Linked DNA regions of Homo sapiens: region 2 is linked to region 1. Evidence: fine-mapped expression QTL. A gene starts in region 1. The other region holds a variant in brackets. All regions are shown on one strand. Distances are between the middles of the regions.

Region 1 (2,912 bases):
CTTTAATATACTCCTAGGAAAGACGAATACAGATGGTTATTTGGGAACATCAGTTGGAATAAAGACCCCATCACAAACTATTCATCTCAAATGGTTATAGCAGAGAAAATGGAATACTCCTTTTTCCTTGGAAAGGCCTTGTGCAGTTTCAAAATCTGGTTTCAAAAGTCAGAAACCACTTTTCACCCTGGTAGGAGGAGGGGCACCAACGTATCTTTATACACCACCACCCCAGATTGGCAATATCCCTAAGATTCCCCAAGCATCCACAGCAGCGAGTGTACCTAATACGTATACACACACAGGTAGAGATGGGTACACAGAGCCAATAAACTGGTCCTCTGGAAATTAGAGAAAACATGATAAATGACTCTTTCTCCCTCGTTCTCCTTTCCTCTCAATCACTGCCTTCTGCACCTTATCTTTCTACTCTTGTCAGCAAGGAAGACCAACCCCCCTTGCGGGGGACTCGCAATCATTCCTTTGGGTTTTTCACACAGCAAAGTGAGAGCGACCGCTGGGGTTGCGTGCGTCAGGATTTGTTTTTTCTGTATTGCTATCCCCCCCATCCCCCGCCACCCCAGCCTCCCAAGCCTATACTTACTAGAGGGTGGCCTAAGGTCTGGGGAGATGGGATTGGTGCTGGGGGGATGGGACGGGAAAGCAGAAATTGGGCCACTGGCGCTCTAAGTCGGGTTCTTCCCCATTTCCATCCCTCCCTCCACTTCCCACCTTCCACCTTAGATACCTTTTACCAAGAGGCACCCCTGGGCCCATCCCTCCCTCCTTCCCCCACCGCCACCAGTCCCACCCTCTGCCGCCCCCCTCCGGGATGCCCCCAGGGCTGTCAGGGGGCAGCGCCCTTACCAGGCTCATGGACGCCAGGGTTGTCGGACAGCTCGATGACCAGGAGCTCCCGGCCCTCGAAGCTGCGCCCCACCGTGTAAATCCTGCTGATGGCGGTGCACTGCAGCCACACGGACACGAGCGCCTCGCGCAGCTCGGGGTAGCGGTGGTACTCGAAGGAGATGCCGTCCTCTTGCTGCAGCCGCCGGCGCCGCCTCATGCCCGCCGCGGGCGCCCCGGGCTCCTGGGCTTCGGCGCCCAGGAGCCACCCGCAGGCAGCCAGTGCCCCGCACAGAGCCAGCAGCGCGCTGCCCCCTCGCCCGGCCATCGCTGCGCTCCGCCGCCGCCGGCCGTGCCTTCCTACGCGGGCGGCCTCTTTTGTCTGCCCGGCCCTGGGCTTAGCCCGCCGGCGCTGCTGGGGGCGGCAAGTTCCGCACCAGCCTCTACTCGCCTCACCTTCCCCGGCTGAATGAGTGTCAGCCCGCGCACTGGGGCCACCCAGAGGAGACGGGCAAAGCCGCGGCTCCACGGGCTGCACTACTGGCCGCGGAGCCCAGGGGAGCTGCAGGAGAAACCACTGCGAGGAGGGGGCCGGCGGAGAGACGGGCCGGCGTGGATCTGGGAGGGCTGCTGGCGTTATTTGCTGGCTCGGAACCACGTCAACAGCCAAATGGCGTCCGGGACGACGCAGGTGAAATGACAGCTAAGGTCCGGGGTTCGGGAACGTTACTGTCATTGAGACACCCATGACCCACCCACGTCACTGCGTATGGAAAAAATATTCTTGTATTGTTAGTGGAGCCTTTTAAAGGGACATCTATTCCAAGCCTACCAGTTTCCATCTTGATCCACCAAGAATTAGAGAATATTCCAGAAAAAAGGAAGTACTGGCAGCCACTTGCCATCTCCTGATGCGTCTTTCATAATTGTATCAAGAGTCAAAACACAAACCCAAGGGTTGGGTTTTCATTTATTAGAAGGTCTTGCTGGAAATCAGAACATTAAGTGCTTTGATTTAGAGGTTTAAGAGAATAGAAATGCTTTCTTCCAATTTGTAGATACTGTCCTTAATTGTATTTATGCACATTCCTAGATTCTTCCAGAAAACAAACAGACAAAATAAATAAGGCAATGTCATATGGCTGTGCCTGCACCAGCCCTCCTCTTTAATACTATGGGGAAAATAAGTACAACTCTGCTGATGCTTTAGACAAAGGATTTAGTTTGGCATTAAGATTAAATCCTGTTAAGAAAACTCTGATGATGACATGACACCTCCGTTCCTTTTGCAAAGCTATTGTAAAAATAAAAAATCATTTACAGCTTTAAATATCCACCCCTTAGTCGGGATTTATATTCCTGGAGCAATGTCTGGAGCAGATGTTACTCTAAAGAGGCTGCTGTTTGGATTCAGGGACAGCACAAATCTAAATTAATAAATAATCCATTGGGTATTGCAACCGAGCAGGAAAAGTGGACACCATGCGGGTAATTTTCCATGTTAAGCTTCTTTGTTTTTCTAAACTTGTTCATTCTTCACCTGTTTAACAATGCATTGCACATAATAAAAACTTTTACGTGGAAAAGGAGTTAGATATTTAAGTCATCTTATTGGATCAATAAATAAAAGCACAGACATGGTTGGTAAGGTGCTGCTGGAGGGGCTGGCTTTAAACACCCCTATGTACATATACTACAGCAGCATGGATCTTCTTTTTTTTTTTTTTTTTTTTTTTGCGTTTTCGGGGAGAAACTGTCACTGTAAACACATGGCACTCAAGTTGAATTGATGTGGATCCAGCCATTTTTTTTTTTGTCAATGTAGGCAGAGCTAAAAATTGTATATTTTCCACTATGACCAGTCTGTGCTTGATTACATGGTCCAGAAGTTTGAAATCAAACTTATAATTATATTTCTAAAACCATGCCCAAAACAGCAACCTTGGAAGCCTAGAAAAAAAAATTGAGTAGCTAAAACCAAATAACTTCAGAAGTAGGAGGTTAAGATTTTCATGTTAGCAATTTAGAGTAACCACACTAATTTGTGGCTAGGTGGGGCATACTGA
Region 2 (2,912 bases), 69 kb after region 1:
TCAAACACACACAGTTATATAAGTCAAACACACACACACACACACACACACACACACACACACAGAGAGAAAGGAGGAGGGATAAAGGGAGGGGGATAGAGAGGGAGAGAAAAGGCTTTATATAGGTTGATTTATATAGAGAAGCTAATTTTAAAAAGAGGATAACTGAAATTTTACAGTAATTACGACTTTTCTTTTTAAAATGATAATTAGCTTGCCCATTCAGAAAACTAAAGTTGAGATTACTGGAAGAACCACTCTCAAGGATCAAAATGCCACATGTACCTGAAAGAACTGTCAACACCTACCTCCAACAACACCCACACCAACACTGCTCCTCCTTGTATTCATGGGAGCTACATGAAACCACTCATTAGACTTTATGTTGTATGCTTCCACAGATGACAAACCTATAATAAAGCACAATAGTCTTCATTTCCTTCTCTAAAAAATGTCAATAGTTCATATATATGGAAAAATACTTCAGGTATGTTATACTGGGCTAAAATTAAGAGAAGAAAATGGTGGAACATAAACACAGCAATTACATGAAAAACAGGTACAGCTTGTTTTCCAGAAGGCTCCTACCTAAGCTACTGATATTTATAAGCTTTTAAAATTTGATGACTGATACTGATGCATAAGAAAGAAAATTTATATACTCACCACTCATATCATTTAAGGAAATTCTTGATAAAATTTTAAACTTATCTTTAAATACCAGTTAAAACCTCACATGTTGTAATCCCAGCACTTTGGGAGGCCGAGGTGGGCGGATCACAAAGTCAGGAGATTGAGACCATCCTGGCTAACATGGTGAAACCCCGTCTCTACTAAAAAATACAAAAAAAATTAGCCGGGCGTGGTGGCGGGCACCTATAGTCCCAGCTGCTCGGGAGGCTGAGGCAGGAGAATGGCATGAACCCGGCAGGCGGAGCTTGCAGTGAGCCGAGATTGCGCCACTGTACTCCAGCCTGGGCGACGGAGCAAGACTCCATCTCAAAAAAAAAAAAAAAAACACAAAAAACCTCACATGTGCCCTAATGTTGCCACAATTTATTCCATAAACATGACTACTACGTTAATTTTAGCAGCAATGTAGAATAAATGAAAAGGAAATTACCTGTACTCCCATCAAAGCCTCCCACAGCGTATAATAATCCATTTAACACAGCAGCTCCCAAAGTGCTTCTCCGGTCTCTCATGTTAGCAACGCTGGTCCACTGGTCCTTCACAGGGTCGTAGGAATCTACAGTGCGAACTCTTAATGAGCCATTAAAGCCACCAACAGCAAAAACAAGTCCAGCCATGTAGACCATGCCTGCAAAAGGAGTACAGCATTTAATGATCAACATGCAACTCAACTACCACCAATATCCAAAGATTGCTTTCTGATAAATCTATAGCTGTTGTCAGAACATGCTACTCTTAGGAGGAGCCTGATTAAATAAATCCTTGAAAATGCTATTCATTTGCAAGAACATCCAATCACTAAAT[T/C]GTCTTTCTTTCTAAGGTTATTATTATTATTATTTCTTCCTTTCTTTATTTTGAGACGGAGTCTCACTCTGTCGCCCAGGCTGGAGTGCAGTGGCGCCATCTCAGCTCACTGCAAGCTCAGCCTCCCGTGTTCACACCATTCTCCTGCCTCAGCCTCCTGAGTAGCTGGGACTACAGGCGCCCGCCACCACACCCAACTAATTTTTTGTATTTTTAGTAGAGATGGGGTTTCACTGTGGTCTTGATCTCCTGACCTCGTGATCTGCCCGCCTTGGCCTCCCAAACTGCTGGGATTACAAGCGTGAGCCACTGCACCTGGCCTTCTTTCTAAGGTTATTAAAAAATGCAATGGCATGGGCTAAAGTACCATGTTGACTCTTGGTTTTTTTAAATATCAATTTACAAGCTTAAATAATGAGCCATTATTTTCCAACTACTTGAACCTGTACTCACCTCCCATAGCTTTCAATTTTGGATCTTCTAGTGGATATTCTTAGAATGAAACTCCATACGCTTATAATTTATTTGCATAACGTATTCCTAGTTTATCATGTTAGTGGGCTAAATCAGGGGTCGGCAAATTTACAGCTACAGGCTAAATTTGGTCCAGCGAACTATTTCTGTAGAACCCATAAGCTAAGCATGGTTTTTATATTTTTAAATGGCTGAAAAACAACCAAAAGAGGAATAATATTTCATGACATGTAAAAAGCTATATGAAATTCAAATTTCACCATCCATAAATATAGTTTTATTGGAACACTGCCACACTCATTCATTTACATATGGCTGGTTTTGCACTATAGCAGTAGATAAGAAGCTGTGACAGAGACCATATAACCACAAAGCCTAAAATACTTATTCTCTGGTCCTTCAAGAGAAAGTCTGCTGATCCTTGGGCTAAAGAGATATTACGGAATCAGTGAATGGAGAAACTAGACTGCTAGACTCAGGTTTCAACCATCTTTTCACTTTTCTCAACTTTTTTCATGCTGCTGTCCTAATCGGACAGGCTCCTATCACCATCTACTCTGTTCTCTTTAACTCTGAATCCTCAGTTAAAGTTCCACATTCTCTATGATGCCTTCCCTGTCCACTTTAGCCTAAAAGGGATTATGTCCAGCTCCCGAACCCTATAGCAAATAACATCTATGTTGTGTACTTCAGGTTTAATAAATGTACCGTCTATAATATAATTACTTTAAATTGTTCAAATTTTTATTGTTCTTAGTTCTATAATGTTTATGTCCCTGTGCCAGCCTGAGGGCAGGCAATGTGGCTCACAGTTCTCTGAATCCCTGTAGGGAGAACTGGAATCACCAGATATGTTTGACGAGCTCAATGTTTTGCAGATGTTATCAGGCAAGAGATGTACCTCTGCCCCTTACTGTCTTAACCTCTGGTGCTTTATTCCC

Which allele goes with the higher level. Positions count from the first base shown, and alleles are read on the strand shown. Sizes are in standard deviations (SD) of each study's normalised expression.
For the expression in macrophages after interferon gamma of the gene that starts at base 1,388 in region 1, allele C in region 2 goes with a higher level than allele T (large effect, 0.94 SD a copy in Alasoo 2018).

Evidence for each region.
Region 2: its variant is fine-mapped to the expression of CPE in macrophages after interferon gamma (Alasoo 2018, PIP 0.95).

The regions. Positions count from the first base shown.
Region 1 is chr4:165,377,484-165,380,395 of GRCh38, reverse strand. CPE (carboxypeptidase E) reads right to left here and starts at 1,388. Exons shown (of 9, transcript NM_001873.4): 1 at 868-1,388. The coding sequence starts at 1,174. RefSeq lists a silencer at 1,096-1,355.
Region 2 is chr4:165,308,962-165,311,873 of GRCh38, reverse strand. KLHL2 (kelch like family member 2) reads right to left here. Exons shown (of 15, transcript NM_007246.4): 10 at 1,124-1,321; 11 at 309-410. Among named protein-coding and RNA genes, the nearest start is that of MSMO1, 17 kb to the left of the region's middle. The variant T/C (reference allele first, on the strand shown) is at 1,498.